Regions from separate parts of the Homo sapiens genome. Here all the other regions are linked to region 4. Evidence: fine-mapped expression QTL. A gene starts in region 4. Each other region holds a variant in brackets. All regions are shown on one strand. Distances are between the middles of the regions. Region 1 overlaps CMTM8 (CKLF like MARVEL transmembrane domain containing 8). Region 2 overlaps GPD1L (glycerol-3-phosphate dehydrogenase 1 like). Region 3 has its middle 26 kb from the start of CMTM8. Region 4 holds the start of CMTM8 (CKLF like MARVEL transmembrane domain containing 8). Region 5 has its middle 48 kb from the start of CMTM8. Region 6 overlaps CMTM8 (CKLF like MARVEL transmembrane domain containing 8). Region 7 overlaps CMTM8 (CKLF like MARVEL transmembrane domain containing 8).

The links. PIP is the estimated chance that this variant, and not a neighbour inherited with it, causes the effect.
Region 1: its variant is the best candidate, but not a certain one, in a credible set for the expression of CMTM8 in monocytes (Fairfax 2014, PIP 0.71).
Region 2: its variant is the best candidate, but not a certain one, in a credible set for the expression of CMTM8 in whole blood (TOPMed, PIP 0.59).
Region 3: its variant is the best candidate, but not a certain one, in a credible set for the expression of CMTM8 in whole blood (INTERVAL, PIP 0.80).
Region 5: its variant is the best candidate, but not a certain one, in a credible set for the expression of CMTM8 in lung (GTEx, PIP 0.76).
Region 6: its variant is the best candidate, but not a certain one, in a credible set for the expression of CMTM8 in whole blood (TOPMed, PIP 0.56).
Region 7: its variant is the best candidate, but not a certain one, in a credible set for the expression of CMTM8 in whole blood (GTEx, PIP 0.56).

The regions. Positions count from the first base shown.
Region 1 is chr3:32,273,617-32,277,616 of GRCh38, forward strand. The region is part of intron 1 of CMTM8 (CKLF like MARVEL transmembrane domain containing 8); the gene reads left to right. Among named protein-coding and RNA genes, the nearest start is that of CMTM8, 37 kb to the left of the region's middle. The variant C/CT (reference allele first, on the strand shown) is at 2,028.
Region 2 is chr3:32,118,434-32,122,433 of GRCh38, forward strand. The region is part of intron 1 of GPD1L (glycerol-3-phosphate dehydrogenase 1 like); the gene reads left to right. Among named protein-coding and RNA genes, the nearest start is that of GPD1L, 14 kb to the left of the region's middle. The variant T/C (reference allele first, on the strand shown) is at 1,994.
Region 3 is chr3:32,211,031-32,215,030 of GRCh38, forward strand. No RefSeq gene overlaps it. Among named protein-coding and RNA genes, the nearest start is that of CMTM8, 26 kb to the right of the region's middle. The variant T/TTGTGTGTG (reference allele first, on the strand shown) is at 2,300.
Region 4 is chr3:32,236,699-32,240,698 of GRCh38, forward strand. CMTM8 (CKLF like MARVEL transmembrane domain containing 8) reads left to right here and starts at 1,982. Exons shown (of 4, transcript NM_178868.5): 1 at 1,982-2,421. The coding sequence starts at 2,275. RefSeq lists a silencer at 1,786-1,995.
Region 5 is chr3:32,189,007-32,193,006 of GRCh38, forward strand. It overlaps the pseudogene RPSAP11. Among named protein-coding and RNA genes, the nearest start is that of CMTM8, 48 kb to the right of the region's middle. The variant T/C (reference allele first, on the strand shown) is at 1,835.
Region 6 is chr3:32,306,785-32,310,784 of GRCh38, forward strand. All of the region lies in intron 1 of CMTM8 (CKLF like MARVEL transmembrane domain containing 8), which reads left to right. Among named protein-coding and RNA genes, the nearest start is that of CMTM8, 70 kb to the left of the region's middle. The variant G/A (reference allele first, on the strand shown) is at 2,423.
Region 7 is chr3:32,300,725-32,304,724 of GRCh38, forward strand. The region is part of intron 1 of CMTM8 (CKLF like MARVEL transmembrane domain containing 8); the gene reads left to right. Among named protein-coding and RNA genes, the nearest start is that of CMTM8, 64 kb to the left of the region's middle. The variant T/C (reference allele first, on the strand shown) is at 1,624.

The DNA of each region.
Region 1 (4,000 bases), 37 kb after region 4:
GGGAAATGTCCAGAATAGGCACATGCATAGAAACAGCAAGTAGGTGAGTGCGTTAGTGCGTGCTGGGAGAGGGAGGAATGGAGAGCTATTGCTGATAGATATGGAGTTTCTTTTGGGGATGATAAAAATGTTCTGAAATCGGATAGTTGTGGTAGTTACATACCTCTTTGAATAGTCTAAAAATTACTGAATTCTACACTTTAAACGGTGAATTTTATGATGTATGCATTATATCTTGAAGTGGTTTTAAAAAAAGCTGGAAGCTTAAGAGTCCTCAAGGTTTAACAAACTCTCAGGGTGGAAACTGGTTTTGGCATTTGATGACTCCCAGGATTCTTGTTTTATTTAATTTTTGGCTTCTTGGGATATTTTCTTTTCATGCCAGCTCAGCAACATGTTTAAAAATGTTTTAGCTGGGCACGGTGGCTCACATCTGTAATCCCAACACTTTGGGAGGCTGAGATAGGCGAATCACTTGAGCCTAGGAGTTTGAGACCAGCCTGGGCAACATGGCAAGACCCGGTCTCTACAAAAATTACAGAAATTAGCCAGGCATGGTGGTGCATGCCTGCGGTCCCAGCTACTTGGGAAGCTGAAGTGGGAGGATTGCTTGAGCCCAGGAGGTTAAGGCTGCAGTGAGTAGTGATCATGCCACTGCACTCCAGCCTGGGTGACCCTGTCTCAAAAAAAAAAAAAAATTTCATGTTTTACCCATACTTGTTTCATTTGGGAGGATACCCAGTCTGTCACAGTGCTAGAAATTGAAGTCAGAATTCCTTTAATTTTTTATTTTAAAAAAGTTCAAGGCGCTAAGAAAAGTTGTAAGGACAGTATAGTGACCTTCCTCATACTTTCACTGTAATTTCTGAAATGTAAATATCCTGCTTCATCCTTCCTCCTTCCTGTCTGTCTGCTTCATATTTTATGGAACCAATTGAGAGTAGGTTGCAGACATCACACTCCTAAATACCCTAGCTATTCCAGCATGCATCTCTAAAGGACAAAAGTATTCTCCTGCATAACCACAGTGTAACTATCATTCTCAAATTTTACCAAATTGTCCTAATAATGTTCCTTATATTCTTTTTCCCTGTCCAAGATAGAGCACAAGATCACATATTACATATAGTCATCATGTCTTCTTTAGTGTCCTTTAGTCTAGAATACTCAGTCTTTGTCTTTCATGACCTTGACAATTTTGAAGAATCCAAGTGAGCTGTTTGGGGAATGCTCTGCAAATTATGTGTGTGTGGTGTTTCCTCATGAGTAGATTCAGGTTATGTGTTGTTGGCAGAAATCCCACTGAAGTGATGTTTGTCCTTCTTAGTACCATACATCAAGGGGCTTGGGATGTCAGTGTATATTGTGATTAGTGAATAAAACTATAATCACTTTTCTTTTTTAAAAGACAGAGTCTCACTCAGTCGCCCTGGCTTGAATGCAGTGGTGCAATCATGGCTCACTGCAGCCTCAACCTCCCAAGGCTCAAGCAGTCCTCCCACCTCAGCCTCCCAAGTAGCTGGGACTACAGGTGTGCACCACCACACCTGGCTAACTTGGGTGTTTGGTTTTTTTTTTTGTGGAGACAGGGTTTTGCCATGTTACTCAGGCTGGTCTCGAACTCCTGAGCTCAAGCAGTCTACCCATCTTGGCCTCCCAAAGTGCTGCTTTTCTGCAAGCTAAATGTGATCTTTTTCTGAGCAGAATGACACAGAATTTGGAGACAAACAGACTTGGCTTTGAGTCTTGGCCCTGCTGCTATTAGCTCTGTGATCTTAAGTGAAATATTTAACATGTTAAAGCATCTGTAAAATATGTCTAATAATACCCACTTCTTAAGATTATTGAAAGAATCAAATGCAAATTCATGTAAATTGTTTAGCACTGGCGCATTGTAAGAACTCATAACCCTTGTTCTGGGGGAGATGATAGTATCCAAATGGCATGGGGGCCGCTCTGTCCCTCAAAGGTATTGGTGAAATCGCTCAGAATCTGTGTGAGGAGCACAAAGGCCCCCCATGTACTTC[C/CT]TTTTTTTTTTTTTTTTTTTTTTGGGGACAGAGTCTTGCTGTGTCACCCAGGCTGGAGTGTGATAGTGTGACCACAGCTCACTGCAACCTCCACCTCCAGGGCTCAAGCAATTCTCACGCCTCAGCCTCCAGAGTAACTGGGATTACAGGTGTGCATCACCATGCCTGGCTAATTTTTGTATTTTTAGGAGAGATGGGGTTTCGCTATGTTGGCCAGGCTGGTCTTAAACTCCTGGCCTCAAGTGATCTGCCTGACTCAGCCTCCCAAAGTCTGGGATCACAGGTGTGAGTTACCACTCGTATGTACTTCAGTTAATTCCCAAAGAGCCCGTATTCTCTTGCCCTTTTCTGCCATCTCACCCACCTCCTTTATCCTTTGCTGTCATCCATCTCTGGTGTCCGTAAGAAGCTCACTGGTCCCAGTGGTGGGTTGGTTTTAGATGTTGACCAATGACGGGTACAGAGGCTTTTAGAGAATGCAGACCGACCTCCTATTCCATTCTTCTCCCCTTCTGTTTTGTCTCCCTTCCCTCCTGGGTTACTCGTCCTCCTCCTCTCCAAATCCTTCTCCTTCTGTTGTTCAGGGAAACTCTCTCCAGCTCCTACCTCCAAACTGTGTATCTTAATTCAGTGAGGGGGTGCAGAGAAAAGACTTCTCACCAAACCAGAAGCAGCTCCCTAGAGGGCAGTGGGCCTTATAAACAGGAACTTCTTTTCCTGTAACATGATTGTTTTTATTCTCATTGTGCAACAGCAATGCCGTGGATATTTCCTTGATGTTTATTTTGACTTGAGAGGATAGCAAGTGGTTTGAACTTGTATGAGAAATACCTTCATGCTGGCACTGCTTGGCTGGCAATTAGAGTAATTGCCTGTGGCTAGCCATGGACCTTTGCATGGGTGCTTTATCTGAATCCAGAGGAGAAAGCTGGGCTCAGCTGAAATTGCGCCACACAAGATCTTTGTTCTTTGGAGGGGAGTATTAGCTGGGGCCCCAGGCAATGCTGATGCCACTTTGGTTGTTTTCTTGTAACCCGTGTCGTCAATGGTTCCCACAAAATGAGCTTTGGATGTTGCACCTTCTGTGTCTTCCTTTATGCCACCTCCCACTCCTCCTTCATGAAGCTGTTTGTCTGGATGAACTTGTTTGGTGAGGCTGCCAGACCTTCCATATCAAACTGAGGGATGCCTTTTTCACCTGCTGTTTTCTTGCTTCATGATTCTAATATCTAGCCCTGTCTCCTGAGAAATTTTTTTTTTTTGAGATGGGGTCTCACTCTGTCACCCAGGCTAGAGTGCAGCGGCACAATCATAGTGCCCTGCATCCTTGAACTTGGCTCAAGGAATCCTCTTGCCTCGACCTCCCAATAAGCTGGGACTACAGGCACATCCCACCATCCCCGGCTAAGTTACTATTTTTTTTGTAGAGATTGGGGTCTCACCATGTTGCCCAGGCCAGTCTTGAGCTCCTGGGCTCAAGTAATCCTCCCACCTCAGCCTTCCACGTAGCTGGAGCTACAGGTATGCTCCAACACTCCCAGCCCTGAGAAATTATTTAGTCTTGAAAAGGAGAGAAAGGGAGAAGAGAAAGGAACAGAGTTTAATCCTGATAAAGGCTACTGGTGTCCAGGGAGGCCCTACATGGTGAGGCTGTGGGCAAGTAAGGCCCCACGGTGGTTGCTGCTGCTGACTTAGAGGTTTTGTCTGTCCATTTTCCAAGGATTCTCCCTTTGTCTTTCTTTCTTTTTTTATTTTCCTTTTTTTTTTCTTTTTTTGTTGAGACAGAGTCTCACTATGTTACCCAGGCTAGACTCAAACTCCTGGGCTCAGGTGATCCTCCTGCCTCAACCTCCCAAGTAGCTGGTATTACAGGTGTGTGCCACCACATCTGGCTTATTCTCCAGGGAGTGGGACTGCATTTGAGGGTGATGAGAGTTTGCGGGAACTGTGTTGTGTTGTCCAAACTCAAAGGA
Region 2 (4,000 bases), 120 kb before region 4:
CTGAGGTTCAGCATTTCTAACACGCTCTCAGGGATATATTCACTGCTGGTCCACGAACTGCACTTTTAATAGGATCTGACCATAGGCTGGGTCTTATGCTTGTTCTTGTGTGTTTTCTTGCCATCCTTTTTAAGTGTGTATGTTTTTTTAATTGTGACAAAATACACATAACATAAAATTTACCACCTTAACCATTTTTAAGCATACGGTTTAGTAGGGTTAAGAATGTTCACATTGTTCGTATTGAAAACAATGAAAATATTGAAAAGAATTAGATCTCCAGAATTCTTTTCATCTTGCAAATCTGAAACTCTATATTCATTAAACGACAGTTCCTCAATCCACTCTTTCCCCAGTCCCTGGAAACCACGCTTCTACTTTCTGTCTCTATGAATTTGACTACTCTAAGTACCTCATATAAGTAGAATTATACATTATTTATCCTTCTGTGTCTGGCTTATTTCAGTTAGCATAATGTCTTCAAGGTTCATCCATGTTGTAACGTATGTCAGAATTTCCTTTTTAAGGCTGGATAATATCCCATTGCATGTGTAGACCACCTTTTGCTTATCCATACATCAGTTGATGGACACTTGGGTTGCTTCCACCTTTTGGCAATTGTGAATAGTGTTGCTATGAACATGGGTGTACAAATACCTCTTTGAGACCCTGCTTTCAATTCTTTGGGGTATATACCCAGAAACAGAATTGCTTGATCATATGTTAGTTCTATTTTTAATTCTTTGAGGGACTGCCATTTGGTTTTCCACAGTGGCTGCAGTATTTTACAAATCTACAAACAGTATACAAGGGTCCTGATTTCTCTGCATCCTTACCAACACTTATTATTTTCTGTGTTTTTGATAGTAGCCATCTAAGTGGATCTGAGGTGGTATTATTTATTAATTGCACACTTGCAATCATATGGTATGTACAATTTTACATCCTTTTTGTTAAATGTAACATTCTATCATAAGCATTTTCCCCTACAGTTTGAATTTTGATAGAAAGCCTTTTCAGTCTCCTTCCTCTTTGAAGTGAAGTTGTTCATATTGATCTTTTTTCCTTTGTGGTTTCTTTCTTTGATTTTAAGCTTAGAAAGCTTCCCTATGTAGAGATCAAATAACATTCGCCAAGTTGAATCTATTTTTAAAATACTTCATTTTTAACATTTGCATCTAATACTCTGGCATTTGGTTGTTCTTTAAAAGCCCTTTGACTGCAAAGAATTACGCAAAATGTTAATAGTGGTTCTCCCTGGGTGGTGAGATTATTCATAATTTTTTTCATGTATTGCTCTTATGAGTGAAAAAGTACATGTTATTTAAACCACAAAGGACCACGCTTTTGCCCATGGAACCAGCCCGGGTCAGCTCTGGAAGAGATGGGGGCATGGAATGTGGAGAATCTAGCTGATGGTGTATTCTTCCTGGACCTCCGCTTCCTCCATAGTAAAAAGAAGGATGGACTGTAGGGTCCTTTCTGGCCTCAAAGAAATTCATCAGGTTTTTAGGCCCAACTTGATAGTGTCAACCTAAAATAATCAAAAAGGTCAGAATCTAGTTTAAAGAGAGTTTAATTAAGTGCGAAGGTTAAAAGTGAGCCTGCCGGCCGGACACAGTGGCTCACAACTGTAATCCCAGCACTTTGGGAGGCCGAGGCAGGCGGATCACAAAGAGATCAAGACCATGCCAGCCAACATGGTGAAACCCTGTCTCTACTAAAAATACAAAATTTAGTTGGGTGTGGTGGCGCGTGCCTGTAGTCCCAGCTACTGGGGAGCCTGAGGCAGGAGAATCGCTTGAACCCAGGAGACGGAGGTTGCAGTGAGTCAAGATCGCACCACTGTACTCCAGCCTGGCGACAGAGTGAGACTCTGTCTCAAAAAAAACAAAAAACAAACAAACAAACAAAAACAAGTGAGCCTGCCCAGAAAGAACAGATTCCAAGAAATTTGACAGTGTTCATATAGAAAAAGTTCAGGGAAATTTAA[T/C]AGGATTTCAGCATGTTTCTATGTAAGGCTTAATGCATAGTTACAATGATCTGATTAGTCAAGGTGGTCTTTCTGAGTGGTGGGGGAGGTATATTTAACATTCCACACAGCAGATGTAACCATCATTGGGTCTTGGACTGACGCTATCTGGTGCGAGTTAGGTACAGGACAATGAAGGAGGCAGTTAATGTACAACAAAGATCAGCAATTAGAAGCGGGAAGATCTGGTCTCTCCTAGTCATTTACAATGAGGAAGTCAAGAACAGTGGGGAAGAGAGTGAAGCAGAATTGCAAGCATGCAAGTTATACATAACCCAGTCTCCAAGCCCTAACTTCCCCCTTGGCATAATAAATTTAGAGGGTTCTGAAATTTTTATTTTTATTTAAAAACAGGCGTCCATTCCTTGGCTGAAGTAGTACCTCCCCAGCCTAATTAAATACTACACCTTTTTAGAGAGAAAGGGGTGAGAAGGCTGTGGACAGAGTGAATGGCAAAGGGTTAGCTGGGGCTGGAGGCGGGGAGGGCATTGCCAAGCTGGGGGTTAGGACCTCCTGCAGGCGGGTGTCCATCCAGCTGGGACTCAGGGCCGTAGAGCAGAAGGGTTAAAAGGGATACTGTGGGTAAGGTATTTGAAACAGTGCCTGACACCTGGTACGCACCAAATTAGTGCTGTTTTTGCCCACCCCGTCCCTTCCTTGCCTCTTGCCCCTGCCACGCCATTTTCTCCACCTTCCCTCCCTCCTCTTTTTCTCCTCCCTTAGTCTCCCTGATCCTTTCCATTTCTCTTGCACTGTCTCCTCTTCTCTCCTTCCCTTAACCTGTCTCCTCTTCCTTCTTTTCTCTCCTCTCTGGATGTGTTGGTTCTAGATAAAATCTGTGCCTATTGTTGGCCATGCCACCTGCTATGAGTGAGCTTTGCCCCAGGGGCCTTACTGCTGCCGGGAAGGTACCCAGCCTCCTCCCCGGGTAAGGCCCACTAAGCCTCAGAGCTCCGCCCTGGCTAGGCTTTCTTTATATATATATTTCTCTCTATATATATTTCTCTCTATATATATTTCTCTCTATATATATTTCTCTCTATATATATTTCTCTCTATATATATTTCTATGTATATATTTCTATATATATATTTCTATGTATATATTTCTATATATATATTTCTATATATATATTTCTATATATATTTCTATATATATTATATATATTTCTATATATATAATATATATATTTCTATATATATTTCTATGTGTATATTTCTATATATATATTTATATATATATTTCTACATATATTTCTATATATATATTTCTATATATATATTTCTATATATATATATTTCTATATATATATATATTTTTTTTAGGCAGAGTTTTGCTCTTTTGCCGAGGCTGGAGTGCAGTGGTGTGATTTCAGCTCACCGCAACCTCTGCCTCCCAGTTTCAAGTGAGTCTCTGTCCTCAGCCTCCTGAGGAGCTGGGATTACAGGCACGCGCCACCACGCCCGGCTAATTTTTGTATTTTTAGCAGAGACGGTGTTTTACCATGTTGGTCAGGCTGGTCTTGAACTCCTGACCTCGTGATCTGCCCGCCTTGGCCTCCCAAAGTGCTGGGATTACAGGCGTGAGCCACCGTGCGCAGCAGCACAGTTACATTTTTTTCTGTGCTTGTTGAAACAGCGTCAGTCTCTGTTTACCAGTCTCCAAGCTCCATGAGGATGGGGACTTGTCTGCGTTCATTCCCTTGTGTCCCTTGCACCCAGCATGGTGTCTGAAATTAATGGGTGCTCAATAAATATTTTCAATAAAAGACTCTACACTACAATAGGGCAAATATGAATTAGCAGCAAGTGCAGGCTTTGGAGACACTCAGATCTGGGTTTGAATTGCTAACCGTAGATGGACAGCATGACTTAGGCAATTCATTTATGCTCTTTGGGCCTCAATTTCATCATCTGTAAAATGGGGATAATGTGCACCTCTCTTATGGGCTGTAATAAAGATTTTTT
Region 3 (4,000 bases), 26 kb before region 4:
TCTGGGTCAATAGATGGGTTTTAGACAATAACCAGGACTCACATTCCTTCTTTAAATGCTTTTTAAATGATTTGTTGACTGATATAATTTGAGTGTGTCTTCCCAAAAAATATGTGTTGAAAACGTAATCCCCAATGCAACAGTATTGGGAGGTGAGGCCTAATGTGAAGTGCTTAGGTCATGAGGACTCTGCTCTCAAGAATGGATTAAAGCCAATTCTAAAAGGGCTTGAGGCTATGAGTTCTATCCACTCTCTCCTTCTCACCTTCTATTTGCCCTTCCACCATGAGATGATGCAGCAAGAAGGCCCTCGCTAGATGCTGGCCCCTTGATTTTGAACTTCCCAGCTTCCAGAACCAAGAAATGATAAACTTTTTATTTTTCATTTTATTTAGTTTTTGAAATGGAGTCTCCCTCTGTTGCCCAGGCTGGAGTGTAGGGGCATGATCTCAGCTCACTGCAGCCTCCTCCTCCCAGGTTGAAGTGATTCTCCTGCCTCAGCTTCCTGAGTAGCTGGGATTACAGGTGCCCGCCACCACGCTGAGCTAATTTTTATATTTTTAGTAGAGACGGGGTTTTGCCATGTTGTCCAGGCTGGTCTCGATTTCCTAACCTCAAGTGATCCACCTGCCTTGGCCTCCCAAAGTGCTGAGATTACAGGGATGGGCCACCATGCTGGGCCTAAACTTCTGTTCATTATAAATTACCCAGTCTTATGTATTCTGTTATAGCATACAAAATGGACTAAGTCTGACCAAAACATTAAAGGAATTATAACTAAATTCACAAACGTGTAGGCAGTGACAACTACTATCTGGACGACAGTGCTTTAAATTTTTTTTTTTTTTTTTTTTTTGAGATGGAGTCTCACTCTGTGCCCCAGGCTGGAGTGCAGTGGTGTGGTCTCGGCTCATTGCAACTTCTGCCTCCCAGGTTCAAGTGATTCTCCTGCCTCAGCCTCCGGAGTAGTTGGGATTATAGGCGTGTGCCACCATGCCCAGTTACATTTTTGTATTTTTAGTAGAGACGGGATTTCACCATTTTGGCCAGGCTGGTCTCAAACTCCTGACCTTGGGATCCACCCGCCTCGGCCTCCCAAAGTGCTGGGATTACAGGTGTAAGCCACCACGCCTGGCCCAATAGTGTTTTTAAGACACCATTAGCTACCTCTCTACTTTTGAGATGTCAAACTGTTGGGGGAAAAAGTCTAATCTAGCATTGTATACCCAGTGCCCAGGACTGTGCTGCCCACCGGGTGACCTTCAGTAAGTATTTCTTAATTAAATAAATTATTTTTTTATCTTACAGATTCTTTTGACTTGCTATTGTGCTCTGCTTCATAGTTCTAGCTTATGAAATACACTGTCATTATGTTTGCCAAGCCCCAAACCACCTGCTTAATAATGATGAAACTGCATTTTGGGAATACTCTTATTACTGTGTTATTTGCATTCTTTGATTTTGCTAAATGCAACCTCAAGAGTGAAGGGAATGAGGTATCAAATGAAGGTGCCAAAATAAAACACACAGCTTTTGAGGAACTAATGTGGGTGAGGCCTTGAAGGCAAGTTTTTAAGTTCCAACTAAAATATACTGATGCCATCGTTCTTATGATTGTTACAGATGCTGCTGATTGCTGTTTGGAGCAATGCTCCAAAGTATATATGATGTACTATGAAGTACCTAGTACTTTAAGAAAAATTTATTTTCAGTCTCATTACCACTAAGTATAAATGTGTTTGGGCCATCAATACCATTTTTTACTCTAAATTCAGTTTATTCAAACTAGGAAGGTGTAGAATTTAAAACAATATTGTCCGTCAAAGCCCATTACATGTTATGTTGTTGACATCTACCCAGGCCTGTGACCTGATATCTTGTTACTTTCACTAATTAAAGTTGTTAATAGGTCCTTCTACTATATAGAAACCTTGTAGAAAAATTTTATGTGGGTATAAAGAATTCAAAGTGTCTCTTGTCATATTTACAGCAGGATTTTCCCAAAATGATGACTTGATGTTTCAAAAAGAAGTGAGAAAAAAAAAAAAAAACTTTCCTGGCTTGGATAGTATACTATGGTTATACCAGATGTAACCATCGGGGGAAGCTGGCTTCAGGGTTCCAAGCACCTCTTTGTACTGTGTTTGCAATTTCTTTTCTTTAAAATTAAAAATAAAGAAAGGCTCTTTTGGATCATTGGATTTTAGGATTATAACTGGTAACTGATTTATACTCCATTAACAAGTAAAGTGACACTGACCTCCAGAAAAAGTATCTTTGCATTGATGTATGCATGTGT[T/TTGTGTGTG]TGTGTGTGTGTGTGTGTGTGTGTGTCTGTGTGTGTGTGTGTACAAAGCATACTAACTTAAAAAAAATTTTTTTTTTGAGACAGGGTCTCTCTCTATCACCCCAGCTAGAGTCACTGCAGCCTCGACCTTCCAGGCTCAAGCGATCCTCCCACCTCAGCCTCCCAAGTAGTTGGGATTACAGGTACATGCCACCACATCCAGCTTATTTTATTTTTATTTTTGATAGAGATAGAGTTTCGCCATATTGCCCAGGGCTGCCCTCGAACTCCTAGGCTCAAGCCATCCGCCTATCTTCGCCTCCCAAAGTGCTGGGATTACAGGCATAAGCCACCATGCCTGGATTGTTTTGGGTTTTTTTCTTGTTTTGTTTTGTTTTTTTTTAGACAGTGTCTCACTTCGTCACCCAAGCTGGAGTGCAGTGGTCCAATCATGGCTCACTGTAGTCTCCTGGGCTCAGGTGATGCTCCTACCTCAGCCTCCCAAGTAGCTAGGATTACAGGCACACATTGCCATGCCCAGCTAATTTTTTATTTTTTGTAGAAATGGGATTTCACTATGTTGCCCAGGCTGGTCTCAAACTCCTGGCCTCAAGCCTCCTTGGCCTCCCAAAGTGGTGGGAATACAGGCATGAGCCACCACGCCTGGCCAAAAACCTTTTTTAATCTTGCTTAAATTAAAACATAAAATTATTGCCTGGGCACAGTGGCTCACGCCTGTAATCCCAGCACTTTGGGAGGCCGAGGTGGGTGGATCACCTGAGGTCACGAGTTCAAGACCAGCCTGGCCAACATGGTGAAACCCCGTCTCTACCAAAAATACAAAAATTAGCTGGGCGTGGTGGCAGGTGCCTGTAATCCCAGCTACTCGGGAGGCTGAGACAGGATAATCACTTGAATCCGGGAGGTGGAGTTTTTGGTAAGCTGAGATCACATCACTGCACTCCAGCCTGGCGAGTGAGCAAGACTCCATCTCAATAAATAAATAAATAAATAAATAAATAAATAAATAAATAAATAAAATTATTGTTACTTCTGGAGAGAAGAACAGAAAAGAAGCAATTTTCATTTCTTGGATTTCTTTATTGTTAGACAATGAGTTCTTACTGCTTTCACAATTTGGTGGTAAAAAGTGCTCACGGTAGACATTTCCTTAAACAGCTGTAAGACTCAAATTATCCAGTGACAGTTTTCCTAAATATCCTTTGTTATCAGAGGGAAATCTTATTCCCTTTTCATTGGTTCTGATATTTATGTTTTGGGAATAATTTCAGCAGAGGAATAAATTTATGAATCAAAACTACTATTTCTTCTACTCTACTAAATAAAAGTGAACTACATGATATTAAAACTGAATCTTAACATGCATTTCCCTAAGGATTCTAGACCTTTTCAGAAAGGATTAGTTATTATAATTCTATAAACTATCATTTTTATGTTTTCAAGATTAAAACATATTATTCTACAGCCACACGCAAGTCAGGCACTATAAATAGTTTTCTTTTTAGCATGTGATATCACTATAAATACTGAAAGATCTTAATACTTGTTGACTGCAAGGGAGATTTCATTTTCCGAACTTTGGTTTTGGAGTAGCAGATCCTGTTCCATAAGAAAATTTTGAAATCATTGCTGTTTGTGGAACACTCCCAGGCCTTGGGTGATACTTACCTCCTCCTTTGTTTTCCTCTGCCTCGTGTCTTC
Region 4 (4,000 bases):
CATTTATTACATTGCAGTAGATAATCCAAGCATACACTTATGTCATTCATGATTTCCCTTGCAGAAAATTAGTATATTAGAGTGTCACCCCAGACCTTACCAAAGGTATTATGTAATATATGGTACATGCACATTTTACCTTTCTAAATTGAAAAACAAAATCTGAATTTAGAAATTCATCTGACCCCAGGAATTTTAAGAGAGGATTGTCCTTTGTTAATATTATGGAAATAAAGTTGTCTAGACTCCGTCTTTTACGTTCACTAAATGTCATGCATAATGCTTGAGTCTCCTCCAGCCATTTCATGTATGTATCTCTTATTTCCCCAAACTCATTAACAGTTTCTCTAAAGCAGCAGCTAACTTCAGCATGCATCAGTGTCTTTTGGAGGGCTTGTTCAAACACAGCTTCCTGGCTCCACCCTCAGAGTTTCTGATTCAGAGGGTCTGGGGGTGGGGCTTGAGACCTTGCATTTTTGATAAGTTCCCAGGGAACTTACCTGCTGTTGGTCCAAGGACCACTTTGAGAACTACTGCTCCAGGGAGAAGTGCTATATTTTAAATTTTAAGAATTTACCCACCAGCCCAAGGTGCTTACCAAATGCACATGGATGGAATCTCTCCAAATCTACATCTTTGCCATGCTTTTGAAGCCTTAACTTTTACTCCTGGAGGTCTTCCTGGCTAGGCCCTAGACTTAAAAGACACTAATTCCTTGTTTTATTTTATTAGATTGTCGTTTTTGCTTTCTTCTCAGCACACTTGATAAGACACTGTGAAGAAAATGTCCCTTCTGATCTCGTTTTTAACCTGTCTTGGAACAGATCAGCAGAAATGCCTTCACTGTGAATCAAAGATACCCTCGATTTATAGCCAAAGATTATTTCCTTTTCTTTTGGTGGCTTCCAGATAAAATGTTTCTTGCTACCCTTTCACAAAATAGAAGGAGGGACCAAGCGGAAGATAATCTTTTTGTTCAGAGGTCCATCTGTCAAAGCCTGCATTTTAGAGATGGCATTACTGAGGTCCAAAAACTAGAGCCACTCGCTCTGGGTCATACAGCCGATAAACGCACGCAGCCGAGCTCAGTTCTTCCCTGACCCTGTTACAAACTGCCTCACTAAATGAGGACCCCCATCCCCTTCCCATGCCAGGAAAGCACAGCTCATTTGTCCTAAAGTTAACATTACACAAATCACACCCTTCAAGCCTTCTTGAAACATTTTTTTTCCCCGAGGGTGACGGGACGGTTACGCTGATTCATCCTGGCCAGGGACCCCAAACATCTCCCCTCCTCCGGCCCAGGCGCCGTCACCCAGGCTCCACCGGTCCGCGGGACAGAGCCGCGGAGAGCGCCTGGAAGCGTCGCGCCCTCAAAGCCAAGCGATTAAGTTGGTTCCTCAAATTGTTCCCGACAGGAGGGGCAGGAAATAACACCGGGCTCTGGCGGCGGCCGCAGCAGGAGGGGGAGAAGAGCGGGCCGTCTCCCGGGCAGTGCTGGCGGCCTCTCATCGATCTCGGGTCTAAGGTCCGGCCGGGTCATCATTCCTGCCATTTCCACAGCATTCGAGGTACCACATCACCCCCTGCCTCGGTCGTCGCTCAGTCATTCCCTCCGCGCCGAGTCCTGGAGCGGCGGAGTCCCTGGAGGCCTGGGTTTCCTTAAGGGGCCCCAATGCCCGCAGCCCCCGACCCGCCCAGGTGGAAGGAAACAGGCTGCGGGCCTGGGCCAGGCGGGGCCTGACAGAAGTAAAGGCCGGGAGGGGGAGCGGAAGACGGCCAGAAGGACCCCTGCGCCCTCTCCTCCGCGCCGCCCGCCAGGCTGCCAACCCAGCCACCCTGGGTGCGACGCGGCGCCTTCTCCGCCGCTGGGAGTCGGGCAACAGGTGAAGAGGGCGGGCGTCCGCGGCGCCTCCGCGGGGCGGTCCCTCTCCTGCCCGCCTCCCGCCCGCCCCTCTCCCCGCCCCCTCCCCTCCTCCGGGCCTCCACCGCCTTCCCCGGCTGCCCGGCAGCCTCCCCTCGCTCGCTCTCCTCTTCCTCTAGGGCCCCAGCGCAGCTCGGGAGCCCGCGCACCGAGGCGCTAGGGGCACCGCGCACTAGAGGGACACCCGCCGCGCCTGGACAGCCCCCGGCGGGCGCCCCCCTCGCACCTCCTGCCCCGCGCGGGCCGCGCTCCCCTCCCCCGCGCCTGTGTCCCCAGGGCGCAGGGCCGCGCGTCCAGCCCCAGACCCGCCGGGGTCCCTGGGGACGCGCCAGCCCGGCAGTGGCTCGACGATGGAGGAGCCGCAGCGCGCCCGCTCGCACACAGTCACCACCACCGCCAGCTCCTTCGCAGAGAACTTCTCCACCAGCAGCAGCAGCTTCGCCTACGACCGGGAGTTCCTCCGCACCCTGCCCGGCTTCCTCATCGTGGCCGAGATCGTGAGTGCCGACGGGCCGGGGGTGGCGGGGGGCTCAGCTGGACCCCGGCGCGTGCTTCCGCCGTGCTTCTCGGGATGGAGCCTGCTCAGATCTTCCCGCGGGCTTTAGGGAACCGTTTTTGCTCAGCCTCGCCTTCTTCCCAAAGTGAAAGACTCTAAACAAGGTCCAGGAAACTCGGGCTGTCCTGGGAAGAAAGGGTTGTGATCCTCAGGATGTCTTGCTGTGGGAGAAATTCAGCTTGTTGGGTCCTCTCGGTGGCGGCGGCAGATCCTGGGAGCAGGAAGCTTGGCTTAGTGGCTATTGAGTTTGTGTTGAGTGTCAGAGACACCTGGTGCCTTTCTCACCTGATCTCCACGTGGATGGCCTCCTCCCTGAAAATAAAGCTTCCTAAGATCAGGGGAAGAGGAAAGGGCTTCTTTCTTTTCCTAATTATCTCCCTGGTAGTAACATTGAGGTGAGTCAGGAAAATTTTACTGAATAAAATCTGAGTGCCATAACCTATTTTAGGACCAAAGAGGTCTTTTGCATGGTGCTGTGCACATCCTGGTTTAGGCTCAGAACATTCCTGGGAAGGAGGCAGGGCATGGGCGTTCTTCTCTTCATTGGAGGGCATAGAGGCTGAAAACTCACGTGATCTTCCCAGAAGTCCCAGCCAGTCCTTCATAGCTGAGAAAGGACTGGAGTCCTGTCAGCAGTTAGAGGTGGTCACTGTTTGAGTCTTCTTCGTGTACCAGGATCTTGTCAAGCCCTTTAGATGTCCTCATACCCTCGTGTAATCCAACGACCACCCTCCCCTGTGAAGGCCTAGAGAGGGGACGTAAATCACACCGGTGGATGGTGAAGCATGGATTCAAACCCAGGCCTGCCTTTCTGCAGGGCCGTGCTCATAACTGCAAGCAGTTGAGACAGCTTCCAGCTGCCCCAGCAGTGCCCCTCTGTCATCTCTCACAGACTTTTGTTAAATATTTGGGAATTGAAAATGAGCCTATGTGGGAGTTAGAGAATGGGCACACCATCATGGTGCAGAAGTGACTGAAGACCTGGGCGGTTCCTTTGAGAAACCTGAAGTAAATCTTGTGTACCTCAAGTAGCTTGCTTGCTCCCCCAGTCTCAGATACCACCCGGACCTGCTCTATGAAGCCCCTGGTGGTCATAATGCACATAAGGTATGAGAAGTGTTGGCTTAGCTCCTCTCCCAGCTGGTTCCCTCAGCGAGTATTGAGGACTTCAGGAGACTCAAAAGCTGAAGGTATTGGAATCGCCTTGCAGGGCCTAGCTTTTAGGAGTTCAACAAATATTTGCTGTGCAAATGAAGGAGTTGGCAGGCTCCTCTGCTTCAGCAGCGCAAACAAAAGCTAAAATGACAGAGATGGGCCTTCTACCTTGGGGTGGATTTGGGCCAGGCATGAAGTATAACGCCTTTGGGTTTTTTTCTGATTTATTATCGATATGCTCTGTGTACTGCGCTTTTTCAGGAAATACAAAAGTGAAAGAAATGTAAGTGGCCCACAATCCCATTACTAGAAATAATCACTGTTGACATGTTAGCATGTATCCTTTTAGATTTCATTAAGCGTTT
Region 5 (4,000 bases), 48 kb before region 4:
GTAGAAGTGATGAGCACAGACACTCTTATCTTATTCCTGATTTTAGGAAAAAAGTATTTGTCTTCCACCATTATATATGATATTACCTATCGGTTTTCTTTTTGTAGATGCCCTTTATCAGGTTTAAGAAGTTCCCTTCTAGTCCTGGTTAGTGGAGTGTTTTTGTCATGAAAGTATGTTCAATTTTATCAAATGCTTTTCCTGTGTCTACTGAGATGACCATGTGGCTTTTTTCCTTTTTTCCATTCATGTGGTATATTACATGATTTATTTTCAAATATTGCCAACCTTGTATTCCTGGGATAAGTCCCACTTGGTCAGGGTGTGTAACTCTTCTATTTCACTGGTATTTTGTTAAAGGTTTTTGACTACATTTATAAGGGACATTGATCTGGAGTTTTCTTTTATTGAGTTGTCTCTGGTATCAGGGATAATACTGGCATCATAGAATGAGTTGGGAAATGTTCCCTCCTCTTCTATTTTTTGAAAGAGTTTGTGAAAAAATTGGTATTCATTCTTTTTCAAATGTTTGATAGAATTCACCGAGTGAAGCCATCTGAGTCTGGGGCTTTCTTTGTGAGTAGTTATTTGTTTGCTAATTCAATCTCTTTACTTGCTGTAATTCTCTACATAGCATTCATCTTGAATGCTTACACAATACTGTGTCAGGTACAGTGCTAGTTCTTAAATTTCTTTTGGGAGGTTTGGACACTAAGAGGAGGGGAAGGGGCTAGATGCATTCATTCATGGGGGTATTCTTTCAAAACACTTATCGAGTACCCCTGGCTGTGTTCTGTGCTCAGCCCTGAAACTACTAAGACCAACAAGGCAGCCACAGGATGAAGGAGTGAACAAGCTGATTTCAGATCAGAGTCTGGGTGGCCACCTGCCGAGTGTGAGAGGAGACCCAGCAGTGCTCACTGGTGTTGGAGTCGTTCTTGGCTCCAAACAAACAGTGGTGCCTCAGAGTCCTCTGGCACTTTGTAGGTTATAAAGTGCTTTCACTTGTAAAATCTCATCACAGTTGATCCTTAGAGGCAATTCAGCAAAGTTCATTATCCCTCTTTGCAAAAGATGAGAAAACCAATGTTCAGAGGTCAGTATGAATTCAAACTTTTAGGAAATGCTTCTCCCTTACTAGCCCCATGTAAGGCCCTAGGAGATAAAGATATGACAAGGTTCTTGCCTTCAAGGAGCTGTCAGTCTGAGACAGAAAGAGACAGGAAGTCAGAGAGACATAACAATCTATGATGGTCATCTCACAGGGTGAAATGGAGGCAAAGAGGAGGGGGTTCAGCAATGGTTTCGCCATGAATGTGACCCTTAAAATGTGGCTGGGAGCAACCTGGACATTACAGCAGGAAATAACAAAAGTCATTCAGAACTGGGATGACCATATGTCCTAGTTTCCCCAGGATAATATGTTTGCTTCTGTTGTCACAGTTTGAGTATCAGTAGCACCCTTTTTTCCTCTCAAAATACATGTTTGATATATGCATGCTTTCAAAGTATTTCCCTAAAAAATTGTTGGAATTATGAAGGAAAAAAATAGTAACTTTGCAGTAGAGAAATCTGGCAGATGCTTAATCCAGTAATGAAGATTAATATCTTCACAGATGGTACCAATGAACATCATGTGCCTCCTGTTAAGATTTGCTCAGAACTTTCCACGCTACCCACAGAGGGGTGCATACAGCATTGTTCTGGATTCCAGTCGTAACTTAAACGGAAACTTTCACAATGTCCGGAGCCCTTGATGTCCTACAAATGAAGGAGGAGGATGTCCTTAAGTTCCTTGCAGCAGGAACCCACTTAGGTGGCACTAATCTTGACT[T/C]CCAGATGGAACAGTACGTCTATAAAAGGAAGTGATGGCATCTACATCCTAAATCTGAAGAGGACCTGGGAGAAGCTTCTGCTGGCAGCTCGTGCCATTGTTGCCATTGAAAACCCTGCTGATGTCAGTGTCATATCCTCCAGGAATACTGGCCAGAGGGCTGTGCTGAAGTTTGCTGCTGCTGGAACCACTCCAATTGCTGACCGCTTCACCCCTGGAACCTTCACCAATCAGATCCAGGCAGCTTTCCGGGAGCCATGGCTTCTTGTGTTTACTGACCCCAGAGCTGACCACCAGCCTCTCCCGGAGACATCTTATGTTAACCTACCTACCATTGCTCTGTAACACAGATTCTCCTCTGTGCTATGTGGACATTGCCATCCCATGCAACAACAAGGGAGCTCACTCAGTGGGTCTGATGTGGTGGATGCTGGCTCGGGAAGTTCTGCGCATGCGTGGCACCATTTCCCGTGAACACCCATAGGAGGTCATGCCTGATCTCTGCTTCTACAGAGATCCTGAAGAGATTGAAAAAGAAGAGCAGGCTGCTGCTGAAAAGGCTGTGACCAAGAAGGAACTTCAGGGCGAATGGACTGCTCCAGCTCCTGAGTTCACTGCTACTCAGCCTGAGGTTGCAGACTGGTCTGAAGGTGTGCAGGTGCCCTCTGTGCCTATCCAGCAGATCCCTACTGAAGACTAGAGCTCTCAGCATGCCACGGAAGACTGGTCTACAGCTCCCACTGCTCAGGCCACTGAATGGGTAGGAGCAACCACTGAATGGTCTTAAGCTGTTCTTGCACAGGCTCTTAAGCAACATGGAAATAAGGCTGATGGAAAATAAACATCAGTTTCTAAAAAAAAAAAAAGAGAGAAAGAAAAAATTTGTGCTGAGAAGGGGCAGGAACAGTGGCTCACGTCTGTAATCCCAGCACTTTGGGGGGCCAAGGCAGGCAGATCACATGAGGTCGGGAGTTCAAGACCAGCCTGGCTAACATGGTAAAACCCCATCTTTACTAAAAATACAAAATTAGCTGGCCGTGGTGGCGTGCGCCTGTAATCCCAGCTACTCAGGAGGTTGAAGCAGGAGAATTGCTTGAACCCGGGAGGTGGAGTTTGCAGTGAGCAAGGATCGCGCCGCTGCACTCTAGCCTGGGCAACAGAGTAAGACTCTGTCTCAAAAAAAAAAAAAAAAAATGTGCCAAGAGGGACACAACAGCACTTTTGTGATATTGTTGCCAGAAATATATAAACTGAATCTAATCACTAAGAAATATCAGACAAACCCCAACTGAGGGACATTCCACACAACAGTTGAGCCACAAAACATATCAAGGTCATGAGAGACAAGAAAGACCAAGGAACCATTCTAGATTAAAGGACACTAAAGAGAAACGACAACTAAATGCAACACATGGTACAAGATTATATCCTGAATGGAAAAAAAGTACATCAGCAGGCCGTGTGAAATCTGAAGACTGTAGATTAGATAACGGCACTGCTATCAATGTAGAATGTCCTTAGGTTTAGGAACTACACATAGAAGTATTTAGTGCTTTTTCAAAGTGCCACAGTTTGGATGATAAATGGTGATGGTGTGGTCTCCCTTCCCAGAACCCAGTGAGAACCCAGCCCTCTCCACTCCCAGGCTGTGGACCTGTCACCATCAACCACCTCAGATGGCCACTCAACTCCTCACCACTGAGAGGGCATTCAGATGAGCCAGGGGCTGGTATGCCCTGGGACACACAGGACCCCTTGTCAGCACCATGCCAACCTGTCCACCCACAAAGTGTCTCCGTTCCTCTGGCACCTTAATTCCCTAATAAGGTCTCAGCCAAGTGAAACCACCACTCAGCTTTTCCCAACAGTCAGAAGTAAGAGTCTCAAACAAAGGAAAAAAAACAGGAGAAAAGTTGGCCTTTTTGTGGTCATTTCCGCTTTCTTGTTGGGTGGGCCGAGGCCTCCTCAGACCTGATTCTCTGAATGTGTCCTATGTGGTCTGTAGGCTAAATGGTTAGTAGAGAAACTGTGTTTTTCTTCCAACTACATCCTCTCACCTGACTTACAGGTCTCTTAAAATCAGGTAATCCTCTAGGACCAGAATATGAGATGCAGACATCTTGGGCAAGCTAATAATTTGGCATTCCCTTAAACTGATGTTCCTTA
Region 6 (4,000 bases), 70 kb after region 4:
ACTCATGTTTTAGAGGGATTATCTTGGCAATAGTGTGAGGGTTGGAAGAGACGGGTACTACATTAGGTCCTTGGGTGCCTCATTGGAAGCTGACTTAGGCCAGCTGAGAATCTGAATTAAGGTCATAAAAATGGAGAGAAGATGCCAGGCACAGTGTCTCACGCCTGTAATCCCAACACTTTGGGAGGCCGAGGTAGGTGGATCACGAGGACAGGAGTTTGAGACCAGCCTGGCCAACATGGTGAAATCCCGTCTCTACTAAAAATACAAAAATTAGCTGGGCATGGTTGTGGATGCCTGTAATCCCAGCACTTTGGGAGGCCGAGGTAGGTGGATCATGAGGACAGGAGTTTGAGACCAGCCTGGCCAACATGGTGAAATCCCGTCTCTACTAAAAATACAAAAATTAGCTGGGCATGGTTGTGGATGCCTGTAATCCCAGCTACTCGGGAGGCTGAGGCAAGAGAATCACTTGAAACCGGAAGGTAGAGGTTTTCAGTGAGCTGAGATCGCACCACTGCACTCCAGCCTGACCGACAAGAGCGAAACTCCATCTTAAAAAAAAAGAGAAGGTAGAATCAACCTGACCTGGTGGCTGACTGGATGAGGGAAAAGCAGGAGTCTAGGATGACTTCCTGGTTTCTGTCTTGGGTAGGTGGGGAGATGGTGTTGGCATGAGTTGCTGGGAATGAGGGAGAAAGAACAGATCCTCGGGGAGATGATAAGTAAGTCCTTTTTGGGCAGCATTCAGTATAGGAGACTGTGGAGTGGCAAGGCAGAGATGGCCAGAGAGCATACTTGCATGTGTAGGTATGTAGCTTGAAGAGAAGTCGAGGTTAAAGATGAAGATGTGGGAATTTCCAGTCAATGGGAGGAGGTGACTGCTAGGGGTGGGTTTGTCTAAGGCAATGGTTCTCAAACTTTAGCTGCATCAGAATCACCTGGAAGGTTGTTAAATCGGAGCTCCCCAGGCCCCACCCCCAGAGTTCCTGAGTCAGTAGATCTGGAGTGGAGCCATAGAATTTGCATTCTAACAAGCTTCCAGGTGACGTTGATGTTGCTGGTCTGGGACCACACTTTGAGAGCCAGTCTGGGGCAAAAGTACAAATGGAGAAGGCCCTGGCAGGCCATGTTCAAGGAGTGGGCAAAGGGAAATAAGTCAGCAAAGGCATTTAAGAGAGTTTAGGCTCTGAGAAGCCAAGAGAATACTGAGATACCCAGTTAAGACCATTCCTTTAAGCGGCTCAATTCAAAAGGAGAAGAGAGCAGAAAATAGAAGACACCACAGGGTGTTGAGGATTTTTCCTTACCATTTAATTGTTATCATAAGAGACTTAAGCATCCTTTCAGGATGAAAGAGTCACACCTCCTTCGCACTCTACCGACTCCATGTCTCTAATTTAGCACAGGGAGGCGGAGACATTCAGACTAAATGGTCCTGCTTTCCACAGCATCAGAAAACACAGAAGCAGATTCATGTCCACAGTGTGAGGGATGCTAGTGATATATTGTGAAGAAATAAAAAATCAAGCTACAGAAAAATATATTGAGTTGTCTTTATAGAGAAAAACAATTATGTGAAGTCCCCCTCCATATGTCTGCATGGTTATGCTTAAAAGAAAACAGATTTGCAGGAGAGCTCTTGAGCACACAGCTAAGCATTTCCAGCCCGCAGTTTCTTCTCCAGAACTTAGCTACTTGGATGGGACAGTGGAGAGTGCACTAGAGTTGGAAAGGGCACTGGCATGAGGAGATCGGGGCTCTATCATCGTTCATGAGTTCAGCATGACTTCACCTCTCTGTGTCTCAGTTTCTCCATCTGTAAAATGGGACTAATTATGGTACCTACCTCAGAATCATGATGAGGATTAAATAAGAATACATGGAAAGCCCTTAGAACACTGCAAGTTATGTATGAGGTACTCAAAATAGACATAATCTGCTCTTAATGTATTTTAATATGAGTTAATAGACACAATGACGCTTAGTGAACTTTAATATATATTATCCATTAGATCCTATGGTGCAACTGTCACATGAAAATAAGGTGGTAACATCTCTAGGAACCTAAGGTTCAAAACTCAGAATTTGGGGTCACAGCAGCCCTACCATTAGAGATGCTCCTTCCTATGCTGGAAAGTCATCGTGGCAGCTCTGTATCAACCATGACCAAAAGGGATTGGCCCCTGTCTTCAGACACCCATCGTCCTTGAGGTTATGGCACTATGAGGTTGGGAGAATCAGGAGGTTTGAAAGGTCATTGGATGTTTCTTAGTGAGAACTGGGTGTCCTGGGGAGTGCTGAGTCTGGGTCATATGTACGCATGTGTACCAAGTTGCTCATCTCCAGACAAGCATCCTTAACACACTCACTGCTGGTTCACAGAAATGGGTGGAGGGTGGTGGGGCAGAGCATTGCCTGG[G/A]CCTTTCTAGACTTGGTGCTGTGGGAAGACCAGCTGATTTGGGTTTAAACTTGGAAGGGCTCAAGCATGGCTGAGCTCTCAACCAATTTACCAATTTTTTTTTTTTTTTTTTTTTTTTCGAGACAGAGTCTTGCCCTGTCGCCCAGGCTGGAGTGCAGTGGTACAATCTCAGCTCACTGCAACCTCCACCTCCCGGGTTCAAGTGATTCTCATGTCTCAGCCTCCTGAGTAGCTGGGATTACAGGTGTGCACCACCACGCCCGGCTAATTTTTGTATTTTTAGTAGAGACAGTGTTTTGCCGTCTTGGCCAGGCTGGTCTCGATGTCCTGACCTCAGGTGATGCACCTGCCTCGGCTTCCCAAATGCTGTGATTGCAGGCATGAGCCACCATACCTGGCCAACCAATTTTTTTTCTTATGCCCCCGTGCTGGACTCTTGTGTCCATGTAGTGTTCCAGACTTATAGAACCTAGGTGTCTCACTTTTCCTCAAAGTCGGTCATGCTTTCAGTAACTTGGCTATTCTGATTGAGCCTGTGGTTCATCAGAAGTCCAGAACAGATGTTCATACCCTGTGTTAGCCCTGTCTGTGCTCTTGGGGTTTATGATTTCCTAAGTCACAGTAGGGGATGGGAGCTTTATGCAGGGAGGCCCTCTCGTACTGCGGGCATCCTGAACTTTCGATGGGAATGTCTGTTCACTGCCCCCAGGCATCAGATGACTGAGTTCAGTCACCCTCAACCTTGCCTGGTCAGCCCTGCTTTCTGCAGGACCATTTGAGGTTCTCACAGCCAGTCTTTATTTTCACAGCTCAGTTTTTAGAAAAGAGGAAGCAAATTAAGGACATCTCAAAATGAGACTAAGTGAACACAGGAGATCCATCCATTCTGATTTTTACTGTTCTCATGTGTAGAAAGGAGTAGTGGGGCTGTGGATGATTTTTAAAATTGTGGTTTTTTTTTTCTGTAAATCGAATTTATCAAGGCTAAAGTGTGGCTTTGAAATTAGGTACTCAACTGTAGGGACAAATTTGGGAGATGGCTCTCCAAAGGAATCCCATCAGATTCCAGCGTGGCAGAATTCTAGAGCAAAGGGATTTTGCTGGCACTGTCAGGCTTCAGCTTAAATTTACAGTTCAGCTGTGTTTTTGCTCCAAGAAAAAAATATACCTGAGCTGTAGATACACTGTCTGGAGATGCTTTAGAGATCTCCCATCCAGTAAATAACATCTTAATGGGAGGCCTTGTCCTTGCCAATGAGGGGTGCCAAAGGAAGAAATGAGTTCAAGTAAACTAGGCCGGACTTAAAAATAGCTGTTTACTACTTTCTCCTAGGGTTATTTTCCTGCAGCGCGAGGAAGAAATCATACTGCGAGGCTCAACACAGCAATCGTGTGTGCCATTTCCTCCCAGGAACCTGAGAATTTCTCTGCCAGGATTATCCTTATGGTCAGCTATGGGCTCATGCTTTTGAGTGGTGCCAGGTGCAACTCTGAATGTCTAAATAAACTAGGAAATACTCTGACTTGTTTTATAGGATTGGTTTGCATTTTCAGGTTATACAAGTATAAAGAATTGTG
Region 7 (4,000 bases), 64 kb after region 4:
GAGGTGGGTGGATCACCTGAGGTCGGGAGTTCAAGACCAGCCTGACCAACATGGAGAAACCCCATCTCTACTAAAAATACAAAAAATTAGCTGGGCGTGGTGGCACATGCCTGTAATCCCATTTACTTGGGAGGCTGAGGCAGGAGAATTGCTTGAACCTGGGAGGCGGAGGTTGTGGTGAGCCGAGATTTTGCCATTGCATTCTAGCCTGGGCAACAAGAGTGAAACTCCATCTCAAAAAAAAAAAAAAATCTTTTAATTTTTTTCAACCATTTAAAAATATAAAAATCATCCTTCACTTGCAGGTCTTATAAAAACAAATGGCTGAGATTAATAAATTGCAAATGATTTTTGTCCAGTTAAGATGGGAAGGATTTCTTATGGCAGAAAAGGAGCATCAGGGGTACTGCTATATGCCAGGTAGGACATTAACCCGGTTTGTTTCTAAGTTTCCAGCCTTATCCCGGCATTCATCTTTCCACAGATTTTTTGCCCTACTTAGGTTTCTGTGCCATCCACCTTTGAGCCAGCTTTGTCATTCTGCTTAAGTTGACAAACTCATCAAGTTACAGAATCTTTAGCATATGCATACTCTATATGAGTCAAGAGCTGACCTTTTCAAAAAAAAATTATACTTTGACAGCTGTATATATATATATAAAGCAACATAAGACATTTTAAATAACAATATATAAATTTCTATCCTGTTGTTTTTAAAACTAGAAACAGGGCAATTAAATAATCATTCAATATATGGGCAAAAGGATTCCACCTTATCTTTCCCTCCTGCCAGTGGTGCAGAAAGTGGTCAAGGGAGAGTGGTGGATGAAGAGGGATAGGGGAGACACAGCCCTTGGGAGGGGTCCTCTGTCTACCTGGACTTGATCAAGCTGCAGTATGACTCATCCCGGCATCGGTGACATTGCACTGGGGATTCCTGAAATCTCATACAGTTTTCCATGAATGATTTTGGTTTCCATCCAGCAGTTCTTATCATTGATATGAAACAAAAAAAAAAAAAGAAAGAAAAATAGTATTTTTCAGAGGGCATTGGTGTGAAAAGGCAGGTGATGTCAGAGAACATTGGACTGAGTGTCAAGAGGTTTCCATTTCGAGTCTGGCTAACCAGCCATGTGACATTGGGTAAATCACAGTACTTTTGTTTTTGCATATGTCAAATGAAAAGCTTGAATTCATAGTCATTAATATTCTTTCTGGTGCTAAAATTTTTGCAACAAAAATAGAATAGACCCAAATTCCTTTCGGTGGAATTAAGAGTGATCACTGATTGCTGACTTTTTTTTTTTTCTTAATAAGAATAGCATAGGCCAGACATGGTGGCTCATGCCTGTAATCCCAACGCTTTGGGGGGCCAAGGCAGGAGACCAACATGGGCAATTCCTGTCTCTACAAAAAAAAAAAAATTTAATTAGCTGAAATGTGGCACGTGTCATAACTACTTGGAGGTGGGGGCTAAGGTGGGAGGACTGCTTGAGCCCAGGAATTGGAGATGCCGTGAGCTATGATTGCACCACTGCACTCTAGCCTGGGTGACAAAGACCTTGTCTCAGAAACAAAACAAAATACCCCCACAAAATAACTACCTTGAAGTTAATTCTTTAT[T/C]GGAACAAGTAGCACAGCATTGGATAGAAAAGTACAAAATGCAATTTTCTGCCTCTGTATGCTGTTCAGTTTATGGTTGTTCCCGACATCTTAGGTCACTTTCCAGTTCAAAGTTAGTTTTAAGTCTGAGAGCAAAGATTTCCTTGCCTAAGGGAGGATTAGATGAAACAAGGCTCCCAAAAGGCGATTGGCCCCCTGACAAAGCTGGAACAGTGGTGAGACAGATGGAAGTAGAAGAGAAGGAATCAGAGGCCCTTTTGAATTTAGAAGTGGACTTGTGAGTGCTAGGATTTCCCTGGGTTTTTCAAGCCCAGAGAAGAAATTGGAGCAAATTTCACAAGGCATGGGTTTTTCACCTATTTGAGGAGGTGAGGGATCTGTTGAGAAAAGAAGAAAGCTAAGGTCCCTCTCCTTGGAAACCTGTGCGCACACACACGAAGTGTATGAAGTACCTGTGCGCATACACACCAAGTACCTGAAGTCTGTAACTTCAGGATCTTTTAAGACCCATGGCATGAAGAGATTGGCTGAATTTGAACAAAGGAACCCTGGGGCATTAGATGTAGAACTTTGTTGTCTTTGGAGAGAGACCTGGTCTCACACTTAAATACCCAGGTGGCCCCATTTTGTTTTATTAAACCAATTTCGTCTCTTTGACCCCCAGCTCTTACAATCACATGCCCGATTGCACAGCTTTCTCCCTTCCAGCAAATCCTTTTTGATCACTATTACATAAACTCTAAATTGAGTGTCCAAATTGCAGGCGTCTAGGATCCAAAACAAATGTAGGTTGCAAATAAGTAAGGTTTTTAAAAAAGATCTTTGTCTTCTTAAGTTGCTGATAGTTACTGCTTGCTGGGAACTGTAGGCCTTTCCTGGCAAGATTTCTCAACATTCTCTTGAGAGCAGTTGTGTTAACAAGTTATGAAGATTACTTTAATGCTTTGCTTGGAATTCATTTCGTATCTGCATAAATCTTCAAGGCCATTATCATATCAGTGAGATATTTCTAGTATTTTTGAGAACTCTGATGCATCAAAATGTCTGAGTTCAGCTCGTTCTTAATGTGGTGACAGGGTCAAATGTGTTGGTTTAGATTCAGGTGTTTCGTTTTTGTTTTTATCTTATGCCTCCAAACACTTAAAAGTAAATTGGGTCGCTTATCTTCAAATTTGAGGCAGGAAATACTGTTTGGTTCTCATACTTTCTTCCCGTATGTTTCATTTCTGAAACATTCTGGCTTGTTTACACATTGATGGTAACCGAGCTTCCCCCCTCCCCCTCCCAACTGTAATTTTGAAAAATTTCAAATCTGCAGGAAAGTAGAACAATATAGACTCCTTCGCTTAAATTTTGTAGACTCCTCACTTACATTTGCCAGCTCACATTTTTTTACATCTGGTTTCTCTCGCTGTGTGAATGTGTGTGATCTTATTTTTGTTGTGGTTGTTGTTAAACCACTGGGAAGTTGCAGGCCTGACATTTATTCCCTAGGTATTTCAGTATGTATTTACCAAAAATCATTAAATAACTATTAAATTATTTAAATTAATTGTAATACCTTCATCACACTCAAGGAATTTAGCATCAATTCACTAATATGTGATGCAGTCCATATTCAAATTTTCTACTTTGTCCCAAGAATGTCCTTTACTTCAGCCTTTTGTTTGAGGATCCAGTCAAGGATCGACAGATTTCTTTTAGTTGCCATGTTTCTTTAGTCACCTTTAATCTAGAAAAATCCTCAGCCTGTTAGACCATTTGGGTAAGAATACAGCCCAGGTGGTGCTGGCATGTATCTGGTTGTGATCGCATGATAATTGGTTGTACCAAAATCAGTGTTGCTAAGTTTGGTCACTTAGTTACAGTAGCATCTGCCAGGTCTTATAAAAGGGACCCTATTCTCATGTAAAAGTTTGGGTGTTGGCAGGGGGCTGAAAATGGGTGTCCTATTCTGAGACAAGGAGAATGAATTTTCCCCCAACAGCCTTGGCCTCTCTGATTGTAACATCCACTGATGTTCTTCTCAGCTGTACTTTGATTTGTTGTTGGAGATGGCATGGGGGAAAGGAAAAGTATAAAGGAAATGTATTCCAGCAGATCTTTGTAGAATCAATTCCATTGCTCCTTTATTTGTATAGTTACAAGAAATGAATGATGTGAGTGCTCTGTATTTTCTAGATTGTCATACTCAATCTATATGAACAAAAGAAGCTTAGTTTACTTCTGTCTCTCCATAGAGAAACCTCCAAGGCAAATATTTGTCTGGAGTTAGTAGCCTGCAATGATTACCGAAGGTCCAGATGAGGTTATTAAAATGCCTGGTGTTTGCCCTGGTGGCACACACAAGATAAATGAGGCAGAATTCTTTCAGCTT